Linked DNA regions of Homo sapiens: region 2 is linked to region 1. The links come from fine-mapping of genetic effects on gene expression. Tissue or cell type: whole blood. Region 1 holds a variant in brackets; the other region holds the start of a gene. All regions are shown on one strand. Distances are between the middles of the regions.

Region 1 (8,107 bases):
CTCTAGTGAACTGATGGTGGGGTGAGAGGGAGAAGAGACCTTTTAGTCTTTACTTTAAGCTTTTTGTACAGTTTTTTTATAATGAGCATGTAATAAAGCACTAATAAATATTTCCTTAAATTGTTACATTTCAAAAGACTTTCTGAAATTAATCCTAGAGCTTATTCTATTAGCAAAAGTCTCAATGAGGTAAGCATCTAGAAACTCTCTTGCTTTTGCTAAGTAGTGACATTTGCTTTATAAAGTAAGTACAAATTATAAAAAACAGATCAACAAACAACAAATTTCTATGAGGTAGATTTAGCAACATATTGAGCCTTCAGTAGGATACATAGCGATCAAGTCAGCAGGGCCTCCTGGTCCATGCCACCTCCAACCCCCCAAGACACTACATGCCATCGGCTCTTGAAAAATTTCCCATGACCTTCAGAAGCCTCCCTCTGGCATCTCAGAATCTTGCTCTTATTTATTTCTCAAAACATGAAGTTTCCCTATTCATTTCTTTTCCTTCAAAATAGAAATGTCTTTAAAATGCTGGCTTATTAAAAAAAAACACGTTTATTATATAGAATTTAAATAATACAAGTTAAAAATGGAAGTCCCTCCTTAATCTAACCATCCTCTAGAGATGTACACTTTTTAACAATTTACTGTTTAATATCTATAGCAAATAGATATGTAATAGAAAATAGTGAATACATATTTATATAATTATATATGTGTATATGTATATATATAACCTAAATATGATGATACTAGACAAATTTTTTATAATACTGCTTTGTTTTACTTAATACATCATGTGTCCTTGCTGCAAATGCCATGATTTCATTCCTTTTTATGGCTGAGTAGTATTCCATAGTGTGTGTATATACATTTATGTGTGTGTATATATATATATATATATATGCATACATATATATATTTACCACATTTTCTTTGTCCACTTGTTGATTGATGGGCATTTGGACTGGTTCCATATTTTTGCAACTGCGAATTGTGTTGCTGTGAACATGTGTGTGCAAGTGTCTTTTTCATACAATGACTTATTTTCCTCTGGGTAGATATCCAGTAGTGGGATTGCTGGATCAAACAGTAGTTCTACTTTTAGTTCCTTAAGGAGTCTCTATACTGTTTTCCATAGTGGTTGTACTGGTTTACATTCCCACCAGCAGTGCAAAAGTGTTCCCTTTACACCACATCCATGCCAACATCTATTATTTTTTGATTTTTAAATTATGACCATTCTTGCAGGAGAGTAAGGTAGTGTCTCACTGTGGTTTTAATTTGCATTTCCCTGATAATTAGTGATGTTGAGCATTTTTTCATGTTTGTTGGCCATTTGTATATCTTCTTTTAAGAATGGTCTAGCGAAATGAATGAATTGAAGTGAGAAGGGAAGTTTAGAGAAAAAAGAATAAAGAGAAACGGACAAAGCCTCCCAGAAATATGGGATTATGTGAAAAGACCAAATCTACGTCTGATTGGTGTACCTGAAAGTGACGGGGAGAATGGAACCAAGTTGGAAAACACTCTGCGGGATATTATCCAGGAGAACTTCCCCAATCTAGCAAGGCAAGCCAACATTCAAATTAAGGAAATACAGAGAACGCCACAAAGATACTCCTCGAGAAGAGCAACTCCAAGACACATAATTATCAGATTCACCAAAGTTGAAATGAAGGAAAAAATGTTAAGGGCAGCCAGAGAGAAAGGTCGGGTTACCCACAAAGGGAAGCCCATCAGACTAACAGCAGACCTTTTGGCAGAAACTCTATAAGCCAGAAGAGAGTGGTAGCCAATATTCAACATTCTTAAAGAAAAGAATTTTCAACCCAGAATTTCATGTCCAGCCAACCTAAGCTTCATAAGTGAAGGAGAAATAAAATACTTTACAGACAAGCAAACACTGAGAGATTCTGTCACCACCAGGCCTGCCCTAAAAGAGCTCCTGAAGGAAGCACTAAACATGGAAAGGAACAACTGGTACCAGCCACTGCAAAAACATGCCAAATTGTAAAGACCATCAAGGCTAGGAAGAAACTGCATCAACTAACGAGCAAAATAACCAGCTAACATCATAATGACAGGATCAAATTCACACATAACAATATTAACCTTAAATGTAAATGGGCTAAATGCTCCAATTAAAAGACACAGACTGGCAAATTGGATAAAGAGTCAAGACCCATCAGTGTGCTGTATTCAGGAAACCCATCTCGTGTGCAGAGACACACATAGGCTTAAATAAAGGGATGGAGGAAGATCTATCAAGCAAATAGAAAACAAAAAAAGGCAGGGGTTGCAATCCTAGTCTCAGATAAAACAGACTTTAAACCAACAAAGATCAAAAGAGACAAAGAAGGCCATTACATAATGGTAAAGGGATCAATTCAACAAGAAGAGCTAACTATCCTAAATATATATGCACCCAATACAGGAGCACCCAAATTCATAAAGCAAGTCCTTAGTGACCCACAAAGAGACTTAGACTCCCACACAATAATAATGGGAGACTTTAACACCCCACTGTCAACATTAGACAGATCAATGAGACAGAAAGTTAACAAGGATATCCAGGAATTGAACTCAGCTCTGCACCAAGTGGACCTAATAGATAGACATCTACAGAACTCTCCACCCCTAATCAACAGAATATACATTCTTTTCAGCGCCACACCACACTTATTCCAAAATTGACCACATAGTTGGAAGTAAAGCACTCCTCAGCAAATGTAAAAGAACAGAAATTATAACAAACTGTCTCTCAGACCACAGTGCAATCAAACTAGAACTCAGGATTAAGAAACTCACACAAAACTGCTCAACTACATGGAAACTGAACAACCTGCTCCTGAATGACTACTGGGTACGTAACGAAATGAAGGCAGAAATAAAGATGTTCTTTGAAACCAACGAGAACAAAGACACAACATACCAGAATCTCTGGGACACATTCAAAGCAGTATGTAGAGGGAAATTTATGGCACTAAATGCCCACAAGAGAAAGCAGGAAAGATCTAAAATTGACAACCTAACATCACAATTAAAAGAACTAGAGAAGCAAGAGCAAACATATTCAAAAGCTAGCAGAAGGCAAGAAATAACTAAGATCACAGCAGAACTGAAGGAAATAGAGACACAAAAAGCCCTTCAACAAATCAGTGAATCCAGGAGCTGGTTTTTTGAAAAGATCAACAAAATTGATAGACTGCTAGCAAGACTAATAAAGAAGAAAACAGGGAAGAATCAAACAGATGCAATAAAAAATGGTAAAGGGGATATCACCACCGATCCCACAGAAATACAAACTACCATCAGAGAATACTATAAACACCTCTATGCAAATAAACTAGAAAATCTAGAAGAAATAGATAAATTCCTCGACACACACACCCTCCCAAGACTAAACGAGGAAGAAGTTGAATCTCTGAATAGACCAATAACAGGCTCTGAAATTGAGGCAATAATTAATAGCTTACCAACCAAAAAAAGTCCAGGACCAGATGGATTCACAGCCGAATTCTACCAGAGATACAAGGAGAAGCTGGTACCATTCCTTCTGAAACTATTCCAATCAATAGAAAAAGAGGGAATCTGCCCTAACTCATTTTATGAGGCCAGCATCATCCTGATACCAAAGCTTGGCAGAGACACAACAAAAAAAGAGAATTTTAGACCAATATCCTTGATGAACATTGATGCAAAAATCCTCAATAAAATACTGGCAAACCGAATCCAGCAGCACATCAAAAAGCTTATCCACCATGATGAAGTGGGCTTCATCCCTGGGATGGAAGGCTGGATCAACATACGAAAATCAATAAACGTAATCCAGCATATAAACAGAACCAAAGACAAAAGCCACATGATTATCTCAATAGATGCAGAAAAGGCCTTTGACAAAATTCAACAACTCTTCATGCTAAAAACTCTCAATAAATTAGGTAATGATGGGACATATCTCAAAATAATAAGAGCTATCTATGACAAACCCACAGCCAATATCATACTGAATGGGCAAAAACTGGAAGCATTCCCTTTGAAAACTGGCACAAGACAGGG[C/A]TACCCTCTCTCACCACTCCTATTCAACATAGTGTTGGAAGTTCTGGCCAGGGCAATCAGGCAGGAGAAGGAAATAAAGGGCATTCAATTAGGAAAAGAGGAAGTCAAATTGTCCCTGTTTGCAGATGACATGATTGTATGTCTAGAAAACCCCATCATCTCAGCCCAAAATCTCCTTAAGCTGATAAACAACTTCAGCAAAGTCTCAGGATACAAAATCAATGTGCAAAAACCACAAGCGTTCTTATACACCAATAACAGACAAACAGAGAGCCAAATTATGAGTGAACTCCCATTCACAATTGCTTCAAAGAGAATAAAATACCTGGGAGTCCAACTTACAAGGGATGTGAAGGACCTCTTCAAGGAGAACTACAAACCACTGCTCAATGAAATAAAAGAGGATACAAACAAATGGAAGAACATTTCATGCTCATGGGTAGGAAGAATCAATGTCATGAAAATGGCCATACTGCCCAAGGTAATTTATAGATTCAATGCCATCCCCATCAAGCTACCAATAACTTTCTTCACAGAATTGGAAAAAAATACTTTAAAGTTCATATGGAACCAAAAAAGAGCCTGCATTGCCAAGTCAATCCTAAGCCAAAAGAACAAAGCTGAAGGCATCACGCTACCTGACTTCAAACTATACTACAAGGCTACAGTAACCAAAACAGCATGATACTGGTACCAAAACAGAGATACAGACCAATGGAACAGAACAGAGCCCTCAGAAATAATGCCACATATCTACAACTATCCGATCTTTGACAAACCTGACAAAAACAAACAATGGGGAAAGGATTCCCTATTTAATAAATGGTGCTGGGAAAACTGGCTAGCCATACGTAGAAAGCTGAAACTGGATCCCTTCCTTACACCTTAGACAAAAATTAATTCAAGATGGATTAAAGACTTACATGTTAGACCCAAAACCATAAAAACCCTAGAAGAAAACCTAGGCAATACTATTCAGGACATGGGCATGGGCAAAGACTTCATGTCTAATACACCAAAAGCAATGGCAACAAAAGCCAAAATTGACAAATGGGATCTAATTAAACTAAAGAGCTTCTGCACAGCAAAAGAAACTACCATCAGAGTGAACAGGCAACCTACAGAATGGGAGAAAATTTTTGCAACCTAATCATCTGACAAAGGGCTAATATCCAGAATCTAAAATGAACTCAAACAAATTTACAAGAAAAAAACAAACAACCCCATCACAAAGTGGGCGAAGGACCTGAATAGACACTTCTCAAAAGAAGACATTTTTGCAGCCAACAGATACATGAAAAAATGCTCATCATCACTGGCCATCAGAGAAATGCAAATCAAAACCACAATGAGATACCATCTCACACCAGTTAGAATGGCAATCATTAAAAAGTCAGGAAACGACAGGTGCTGGAGAGGATGTGGAGAAATAGGAACACTTTTACACTGTTGGTGGGACTGTAAACTAGTTCAACCATTATGGAAGACAGTGTGGCGATTCCTCAAGGATCTAGAACTAGAAATACCATTTGACCCAGCCATCCCATTACTGGGTATATACCCAAAGGATTATAAATCATGCTGCTATAAAGACACATGCACACGTATGTTTACTGCGGCACTATTCACAATAGCAAAGACTTGGAACCAACCCAAATGTCAATCAATGATAGACTGGATTAAGAAAATGTGGCACATATACACCATGGAATACTATGCAGCCATAAAAAATGATGAGTTCATGTCCTTTGCAGGGACATGGATGGAGCTGGAAACCATCATTCTCAGCAAACTATCGCAGGGACAAAAAAACAAACACTGCATGTTCTCACTCATAGGTGGGAATTGAACAATGAGAACACATGGACACAGGAAGGGGAACATCACACACCGGGGACTGTCGTGGGGTGGGGGGAGGGGGGAGGGATAGCATTAGGAGATATACCTAATGTAAATGACGAGTTAATGGGTGCAGCACACCAACATGGCGTATGTATACATATCTAACAAACCTGCATGTTGTGTACATGTACCCTAGAACTTAAAGTATAATTAAAAAAAAAAGATCATCCAACCTAGATTAATGTATTGTTAAGTTTTTGGGGATTTTATTGGTGTTATTTTCTCTCCTTTGTTGAACTTGTGAATATTTATATATTTAGTACTTTTCAAAAAAAATTAAAAAAATAAAATTCATGGTCTGAAACCACAATTACTTTTGTACCAACAAAAATATAAATATAAATAAATATAAATATAAATATACACACATTTATGTATACATATGTAAACAAATGTGTTTTTAATGTTCTTTAATTCCAGTTTCCTATTGAACTTGTTTCTTCCCTTTCTTATTTATATAAACAGCACAATGTGATCTTTAAAAATAATTTCTAAATTACCTCATAAGTAATTCCCTACAGATGTTCCCTCTTTCTTGTTAGTGTTTCTAATTTGCCCACAACATTGGATTCTGTTTAGCAACCAAGGCTACAGTGTAGCCAGACTGACTAAAGCAATGACAATTTTTAATACCATATTTACCAACTAAGAATCAGATCATCAGTGCTGAATGCAACTGTGGCAAAAACTCCCTCCCCAACAAATTCTCTGTGGCTTGAGAACACCCAGGCTAACTAGTTCTGGAAAGAATGGGAATGAAACTGGATTTCTGTGTTGCACATAGCTATGCTTCAAGAGGCAGGACTCGATAACAGGAACTCCCTGCAGGAAGGACAGCATAGAATGAAGACTGCTAGGATAAAGACCTAACCTTTTTAAGGGTGGTGCTGGGGTATGCCCGCTTTTTGCTATTTACAGTGGTGTGCTGGAGCTGACTCTTTCTTATGTACTCACAAGAGCTGATTCTTAAAATTTCCAGATTTTTGTGAGCCAGTTGATATGTTGATATAGCTTGAAATAGGCTGTGGTAGAACTACTTACACCATGGAAACTGGTAAGTGCTACAAATCAGCTCCCCATTCCCCGAGAGTTGGTTGTTGGACATTTCCCAGACCATCACTGCTTGTCTGACTCACAACTATCAATGAGGTAGATATTACTGTCCCCATTGTACAGATGAGGAAACAGACAAAAAAACTTTAGGTCTTAGGGATACATTACAGAGGGCATAAAACAAAACAAAACAAAAAACATCAAAAATCTGAAGCAGAATGAAACTGCCAATGCAGAAATCGGGACAGGACAGTCCTGACCCTGAGGGCTGTATCTAGAGGAGAAAGATCCTACATAGAGGCAGGCAATGCGATAGTCTCAGGAACTGCCAAACTGAGGTTCAGAAGGCTGGGAGAACAATCTCAATGAGGAACTAAGGGATCAAATAGAAAAGCCTCCAGGGGGAGTTCAAGACTCCTCCACCCTTTTCCAGCCCCTATCTCTCCCTGCTTTGGTTGGATGAATCACATTCAAAGGCAAGAAATTTCAGTCCCCTAAGGAGGAAAGGTTTGCTCAAGCTTGAAGGCAGGAATTGGCCATGTTTCCCAGGAAGTGAAACTTTCTGAGAAGTTACAAACTCAAGACACAAGGGTATGTTCATTGACTTTAGATTTACATCCTCGCAGTGACTGGAATGAAAAAGGCCCTTGGCCAAGGTGGCACCCTCCTTCCTCTTCAAGGAGTTCAATCTAAGGCAAGGGCCCTGGCCCAAAAAAAAGTCCAAGGTGAAGAGCCAGTGCCAGCTCAGCCACAGGGCATTCAAGTGAGGTTCAGTTTCTTCTGAATTTGGGTTTGCAGCCAACTAATAACCAAATATTACTCTGCCAGTCATTGTCTTGTCATGTATTTCCCTCAGGAACCTTGAGGGGAGGGTAGACTGTGGTTTGGACCATGGTTAAGGTAAGTCTGGATCTATGGCATTACCTATTGTTTTCTCAGAGACCAAGAAAATGAAGAGCTCATACAGTTCATAAGAAGCCAGAAGTAGAATCAGATCTGATTACGACAGTGCCTATGTTCTCTTCTAGAGCTTTGTCTTGGGCCAAGCCAGGTGACCTTAGGAGAAACTCTCTTGCTGGGGTCCTGG
Region 2 (8,107 bases), 98 kb after region 1:
TTACATTAGCTCTGAAAATCATCCACCCAGAGGGATGCATTTTGTTTTTCAGTGTATCCACATAGAGGGACGTCTTTACAGATTGTGCCAAAGATCTATATGTACCAGTGGGGAACCCTACTGCAAACTCAAAGGTCCCCTTTTAAACAAGCCTCTTGAAGGTCTCAAATGAGCATCAGCTAAAATAATAATACTTCACTTACTAAATATTTATTGAGTTCCCATTAGGGAACTCAAGGTGCTAATGGCTGACAAGGACCTTTTGGACTTGCACAAGAGCCTGGTGTGTACCACCTTCTAAGGAAAGCTTGGGATGTTCTCTGAGAGGAACACCAAATTCAAGAACCTGTCCCAGGGGCTGATGAATGTGGCTGCCAAGCTGACCCACAATAAGTACGTCAGAGGACCTCACAGACCTCATGGAGAAGGTCATTGAAACCTGACACCTTAACCATTGGTTGCTGAATGACATGTGCTCTTCCTGAATCAGTACTCAGCATATGTCCACTTCCTGCGTGGCTTCTGGCCCTCTATGACTGCTATATGGTCATCCTCTGTGGCTACCTCCTGTACCCCTATCATGACTGAGGCCCCTCTCCCACCACTCTGCCCACACTGATGAGAAAGTTGCCACAAGTTTAGAGACTAAAAATAAAATTGCACTAGACACTGCAGATCTAAAGGTGAATACAGAAAATATAATTGGAAGGGAGAGAAGGTGATGCAGAGGGCAGGAGCATGGACAAGTATGATGAGTGCCACCTTAGGCATAACTGATGAGGTACTATAGAAGCATCCAAGATGGGGGCTAATCTAGACTTGAAGGATTAGAGAAGGCTTAAAGGGGAATAACACCCAATATGAGGCTTCAAGCAGTGATAGCAAATGTTAATATTTATTTAGCAATACTATATATCAGGCCCTGTTCTAAAAACTTTGCATGAATCCCTCATTCAGTCCTTACCACAACCCTGTAAGATAGATGTTACTGTTATTCTCTTCATGTTACAGATGATGAAACTAAGGCACACAGTAAATGGTGGAGCTGAAATTCAAACCCAGGCAGCTCGGCTCCAGACTAAAGGGGAAGCAGAGTACCAGATAGGCCCTTAAAACAGAAGAAAGTGCCTAGCTTCAGTCTGAGGAAAGATGCAGTTCCTTTGGGGAACTGAAAGCAACTCAATGAGGCGCAGCTTGGGGTGGGGACAGACGTTCAGAGATGACTGGGTCTGCTCTGTAGGTTGGAAGAAAAACCAGAAGCAGAGGGTTTCAGATCCAGTCCAAATCTTTTTTTTTTTTTTTTTTTTTTTTTTTTGAGACAGTGTCTCACTCTCGCCCAGGCTGGAGTGCAGTGGTGCAACCTCAGCTCACTGCAACCTCTGCCTCCCGGGTTCAGGTGATTCTCCTACCTCAGCCTTCCAAGTGGCTGGGACTACAGGCGCACACCACCACACCCAGCTAATTTTTGTATTTTTAGTAGAGACAGGGTTTCATCATGTTGGCCAGGCCGGTCTCGAACTCCTGACCTCAGGTGATCCGCCCACCTCGGCCTCCCAAAGTGCTGGGATTACAGGTGCGAGCCACCACATCCAGCCCCCCAGTCCAGACTTTTGACAACTAGCTGTGACTGGTGTCACCAAACTAACCCCTTCTGACCTCAGTTTCTCCTTTTTGCAAAAGACCATAATAACAATACCTGCTTCTCATAGAGAATGGCCATGAGCACCAAATGAGGAAAATGTATGTGAACTTGAGTGCAAAGTACAAATTCCTTCACAGACTTAAGATTTTACCAGTATCACTTCCCCAGTAGCTTCAAGGATTTGCAAACCTGAAATCCACAATGTCAGGGCACCAGAAAAAGCAGAGAAACAGTATTGGGGAGTGGAAAAGCCCACCAGCCCTGCCTCAGACCACCTCCATCCACACTCAGCCCTTACTAACTATGAGATCTCAAGGCAAGTTATCCTCTCAGTACCTCAATTATGCCATCTGGAAAATGGGAATGTCAATGATAGCACTTGTAAGGTTCATGTGACAAGTAAGTAGCACATGTAATATGCTAGGTATAGCTCCCAACACAGAATAAAGACTTAGTCAACATTAACAGCTATCATTATTGTAAGTATTAAGAAATATGTTGGCTACTCATGCTATTCTTCCATGTTCTATACGGTATAAGCATGTGGGAATGTTAGAAGTTAGAGATGATAAAGAAGGAGGAGAAGGAGGTTTACAACCCTATACTCCCTCACTGCTGCAGAGATTCTTCCTGGCTCTCACACGCTGGCAAGCAGCTGGCTCTCCGTCTTGGCAGAAAATGCCCAAAAGAGGTAAAAGATAGAGACTGCACACCATCTGTGCAAACCAGGCTGCTCTTGTAGTTTTTAGACAAAATCTAAATGTAGTCAGATGTGACCTGCCCTTTTAAGATAGAATTATTCTATTTCCTCCCTCTACCCGTCCCCGTCCCCCACTCTGTCCCCCACATAAAACTCCCCCACATATCTCAAGAAACTTTCAGCATTTTGAAAGACATACTCTGGGGTCCTGTTGTGACAGCCTTGTGCCACATTAACTTCTCTGTCTTGTTCCCAGCAAAGAAGCCTTTGCTAATTTCACAACAGGAAAGCATGCAAGAAATTCGAGAACAAAACAAATCTACACGCAGAGCCCAGCATCTTCAAGCAAACACCCTGAGGTACAGACCCGAGGCTAGATGAGTCCGGACTGCAGATGAGGCAGCTGCCTCTTAAACTGCAAGGGGACTGAAAAAGTCATTTGCCTCTAAAAAAACCAACTCTGAATACAAATTGATAATGAATATTCATGAGCCCCTCCAGCTTGCTCTAGAGCCACCCTTGACTGCAACCCTGGACTCTGCTTCCTAAAAAGTTTCCCAAAGCTCTTTCTCTGCCTCCTCTCAGAAGGAAGAGGGTGGGAAAGTTCATTCAGGGCTTTTTGCCTCCAGCTTTCAAGTACTTGCTTTTTGGTCTGGGCTTTTATTTTTCCTTCTATTTTTTTTTTCTTAAGGATTCAGATCAAATCAATTTTGGTCTTACCCTTTGTATCTTCCATAAGTAGCAGCTTTTGTTTTCCTCCTCTTTCCTCGTCTTTCCCCCCCCCAGCCTCTGCTTGCTGTGGTCCGTCTCCGTGAGAGAGGTCCTCAAGGAAACAGAGATATAACAGACCCTTGGGCTCGTGGGAGGGGCTAAATTAGCCGGCCCCGTTTCGGAAGGAACCTCAAACCCTGTCTTTTTCATTGACTAGAAAGGACAGATTGACTGAGGAGTCCAGCAGCTCATTTTCCTAAAGTTACTCGAAGCCTTTTCCAGGTTGTAATTTTTTGCATCCTTGAAGCAATGTATATTCAAATCTCTCTCTCTTTCTCCCTTCTTCCCTCTCTCCCTTACTCCCTCCCTCTTCATCTCTCTCTCCCTCTCTTCGTTATAGAAATCCCTTTTTCTCCCTTGAAAAAGTCATCTCAGCTGCAAGCAAAAAAAGCTATTCCTTACTGCAATTATGAAGCTAGATAATAAGAAAGTTGTTACCTTGAAACCCGCTCGAAAAACTGAAAGTCAAGAACAGTTCTTCCCTCCCCATAAAGCCTCTGGTCCCATGACCAGCAATCCTTTCTCAAGGCTCATTAGAGCAAAGAGCAACAGGTGACCCAAGCGATGAGTTTCCTGCAGGAGACGCTGCGTTATTGGTTGGAAGGCTGGGTGGAACCACAGAGGAGCTGCTCAATGGGAACCGCTGCCTGGCTATGAATTGATGAAAGTCATCCACCATTTCCCAACTTTGACTTCCTACCTTTGAAGTCTAATGAGCATGAATTACCACATCCAGACCGTCAAGATTACCCCAATGTAGATGAGAGCCTGACCAAATTATTTTTAAACTGTGTAACAAAATTATTTTGAAATCAAAACAAGGGCTAATCCTTTGAAAGGAAGGTAAGTCCTCAAGTCCCAAGGCGACTTGGCAGCTTCTCCCTCCACAAGGCTGTTGCAAACCTTAGCATTTCAGGTCTGAAAGATACCTCAGACATTGAGTCTAAAAGAGGTTAGAGATGTGGAGAGGTTAAGCCACCTGCTCATGCTCACATACATGGTCTCTCTTATTTGCTACCATGTTCCCCAGCACCTAATACAGTTTCTCTCACAGCATGGGCTCTCAATAAATATTTGATGAATGGTTGAAAAAAATGAATGAATTGCAGCAAAGCAGAAATGTAGATCTGTTTTCCTGTTTCCTAGTTCTTGATTTTTCTACATTGCTTGTCTGGCATGTAAATTTGTATCTAAAGCCAGTTATACCATATAAATCATTAAATTTGTGAGCCCGAAGGACTGTTTTGACTCTATGTAGAAACTATATTCTCCAGCGAGCTTTCAGTCATACTTTAATAAGGACAAAGGATAACCTTTTAGTTTAGGCATCTCTGTTACTTTGCACGGTGCCACATGGTATATACTCAATACATTTTTTATACTTTAATAAATTTGGAGCTGTTTAACAATACTTTATTTCTGAAATGCTTTATAGTTATAGGATTTTGCATGTATGATAACAACTAATTACACTGAATGAAAGACTCAATGGATGTCTTCTCCCGAGTCAGTTTAGACTACATCTCTAATAATGAATATTGGTCTGATATTCATCCTGTTATGATAAAACTGGTTTTTGGTGATATGATGGGATTTTTTGTAAAAACCAACAATTGGTTTATGACTGCCTTTGTACTATTGTTTTGGAGAGAAATTTGAAAAGAGCATGTCCACAAAATAGTGTGCGAATTACAGAATGGAAACCAAAACATCAAAGCTAGAAAGAGAAAAGAATGATCAAAGGGAAGATCCAGAGTGGCTGAGGGGTAGGCAGGAGAAACAGACAAACAAGTACCTGAGCTTGTCAATGAGAGACACACTTTGGTGGGTGCTGTGGCAACGGTTCTCTACTTTATTACATTAGGATATTAGGTTCTTTTTTTTTTTTTTTTTTTGAGACAAGAGTTTTACTCTTGTCTCCCAGGCTGGAGTGCAATGGAGCCATCTCAGCTTACTGCACCCTCTGCCTCCCGGGTTCAAGTGATTCTCCTGCCTCTGCCTCCAAGTAGCTGGGATTACAGGCGCCCGCCACCTTGCCCAGCTAATTTGTGTATTTTTAGTAGAGATGGGGTTTCACCATGTTGGTCAGGCTGGTCTCGAACTCCTGACCTCAGGTGATCCGCCCGCCTCAGCCTCCCAAAGTGCTGGGATTACAGGCGTGAGCCACCATGCCTGGCCTATTTTACTACGTTCTTACATTCTTTTTTTTGAGACAGAGCCTCACTCTGTCATCCAGGCTGGAGTGCAGTGGCGTGATCTTGGCTCACTGCAACCTCTGCCTCCCAGGTTCAAGTGATTCTTGTGCCTCAGCCTCCCGCGTAACTGGGATTATAGATGCGCACCACTAAGCCTGGCTAATTTTTGTATTTTTAGTAGAGATTGGGTTTCACCATGTTGTCCAGGCTGGTCTCAAACTCCTGGCCTCAAGTGATCCGCTTGCCTTGGCCTCCCAAAGTGCTAGGATTACAGGTGTGAGCCACAGTGCCTAGCCACAGTTCTCTATTTTAAACAAAATTAAAATTCAAGGTCACTTCAGTCATGTTGTATCAGACGTTGTCGACAAAAGGTTACTTTGACAATTGTCTCATTCTCTTTACATTTCATCAGGGAGAGAAAGAGTTAGTAAAAAGTAAATTGTTCTAGTACCCAACTTCTGGTTTAACCAGGAGAGGTAAAATCTCATTATAGTAACTAGCACTTCATAAATATTTGAAGTTCATCCAAACTGAATATGGAGTAATAGAAACATAGTTTTAACCCCTAATTCATATTACATGAGCCTTTTGACAACATTTAATGCTTTTTATGGTAATATGCTCTGTGCTACAATTTAATCACGTTGTCCAGGTTCGCACCCTCCTCAGCATCATGAAAATACTATGGTTAAGTATATATTATCACCAATTCATACAAGAATAATTATAAAAGAGATGGGAGTTTGTGTGTATCTTTCTAAAGGCCTCAGAATTTATCTTAAAAAATAAATCGTCTTTCTCAACAAAAAATTATCATCAATTTTATTGTTTTTTTTTGTAATAGAAAGTAGAAAATTAAAACTGCACTCAGAAAGATGGAAGGAGTTGTCAGAAAGGGGTAAAGATATTTGTCTGTCTTTTAATGATGAAATGGTCTTATAAAGTTCTTAGAATGGTAGAATTTTCATTTTTCCTACACCTTCATCCTCTTTCACTGTACCGGTTCATCCCCCTATGCATATAAAATATTTAAGTGATTCTCATTCTTAAAAACAAATTCTGTTGTTTAATGGTATGAATTATTAGTGTTGCAAGATGAATAAATTCTTGAGATTGGCAGCACAACAATGTGAATGTACTTAAAAATACTTAAGTATACTGTTAAAAATGATTAATATGGGCCAGGTGCATTGGCTCACCGTGTAACCCCAGCATTTTGGGAGGCTGAAGCAGTAGGTTGTCTGGAGGCCTGGAGTTTGAGACCAGCCTAGGCAACATAACAAGACCCCATCTCTACAAAAATAAAAATAAATTTTAAATGATTAATATGGTAACTTTTTTTTTGAGACAGAGTTTCGCTCTTATTGCCCAGGCTGGAGTGCAATGTCGCGATCTCAGCATCTCGGCTCACCGCAACCCCTGCCTCCTGGGTGCAAGTGATTCTCCTGCCTCAGCCTCCCGAGTAGCTGGGATTACAGGCATGCACCACCACACCCAGCTAATTTTGTGTTTTTAGTAGAGACAGGGTTTCTCCATGTTGGTCAGGCGGCTGGTCTCGAACTCCTGACCTCAGGTGATCTGCCCACCTCGGCCTCCCAAAGTGCTGGGATTACAGGCGTGAGACACTGGGCCCAGCAATATAGTAACTTTTATGTCTATTTTATCACAATTTTTAAAAAATTAATTAAAACAAAAACAGCTCCTTCACAAACAAGCTACTTGAGACCATGGTCTACCTTTGCCTTCCTTCATCACCTCCATTCTCTCCTCATTCATTTACTCCTCCTTCCATTGCATTCCCGTTTCTCACCGCACCATGCCAATGAAACTGCCCTAAGATTGCCAATGGCCTGTAAAGCAAAGACCAATTTTTGTGTTTTATCTTCTTGGATCTATGTAGCATGGGCCATTGTTGGCCTTCCTTCTTTCTTGAAAATTGATCTCTCCTTATTTTCCAGAACCCCCCTCATGTCTGATTTTCCTCCTCCATCTGTGTATGATGGCTCCTTTTCAGTCAACTTTTGTGTCTTGTAAATGTTGGTATTCCCTAGACCTTCACCCTTTGCCTTCTCTCCCTACTTCACTTATTCTACCTAGGTCATAACTTCTTATGCCTTTACATTTCTGCCAAGTCCACTCCCATGAGCACCAGATCCATATTTCCATCCACCTACTGGGTGTCAAGAGAATATCCCACAAGCAGCTCAAACTTAGCATCCAAACTGTACTCTGTATCTTTACTTCCAAATCTGCTCCCATCCAGTACCAGTATTCCCTACTTTTTTTTTTTTTTTTGAGACGATGTCTCACTCTGTCGCCCAGGCTGGAGTGCAGTGGCACGATCTTGACTCACTGCAACCTCTGCCTCCCAGGTTCAAGCGATTCTTGTGCCTCCACCTCCTGAGTAGCTGGGATTGCAGGTGCACACCACCATGCCTGGCTAATTTTGTGTTAGGAGAGACAGGGTTTTGCCATGTGGTCCAGCCTGGTCTCGAACTCCTGACCTCAGGTGATAGGCTGCCTCGGCCTCCCAAAGTCCTGGGATTACAGGCGTGAGCCACTGCGCCCAACCCCTACATTAGATAATGGCACTACCATCCACCTAGTCACACAACCCAGCAACCTCAGGGTCCTCCTAGACCCCTCCCCACATCCCACATCTTATTGTTTACCAAATCCAATTGTTTCTATACCTTAAGATCTCTCAAATTCATCTCCTCTCTCCATTCTCGTCACTTCTGCCATAGTGCATACTCTCTCATCTTTCTGAAATCGATATCTGATAATGTCATTGGCAGA

The links. PIP is the estimated chance that this variant, and not a neighbour inherited with it, causes the effect.
Region 2: ENTPD1 starts here. The variant in region 1 is fine-mapped to the expression of ENTPD1 in whole blood (INTERVAL, PIP 0.97).

What each region holds. Positions count from the first base shown.
Region 1 is chr10:95,849,454-95,857,560 of GRCh38, reverse strand. The region is part of intron 7 of ENTPD1 (ectonucleoside triphosphate diphosphohydrolase 1); the gene reads right to left. The region is part of intron 3 of ENTPD1-AS1 (ENTPD1 antisense RNA 1); the gene reads left to right. Among named protein-coding and RNA genes, the nearest start is that of CC2D2B, 54 kb to the left of the region's middle. The variant C/A (reference allele first, on the strand shown) is at 4,066.
Region 2 is chr10:95,751,211-95,759,317 of GRCh38, reverse strand. It overlaps ENTPD1 (ectonucleoside triphosphate diphosphohydrolase 1), which reads right to left and starts at 3,155. Exons shown (of 10, transcript NM_001776.6): 1 at 3,063-3,155. The coding sequence starts at 3,078. ENTPD1-AS1 (ENTPD1 antisense RNA 1) reads left to right here. Exons shown (of 6, transcript NR_038444.1): 6 at 2,604-6,112. RefSeq lists a silencer at 1,905-1,964 and an enhancer at 3,295-3,594.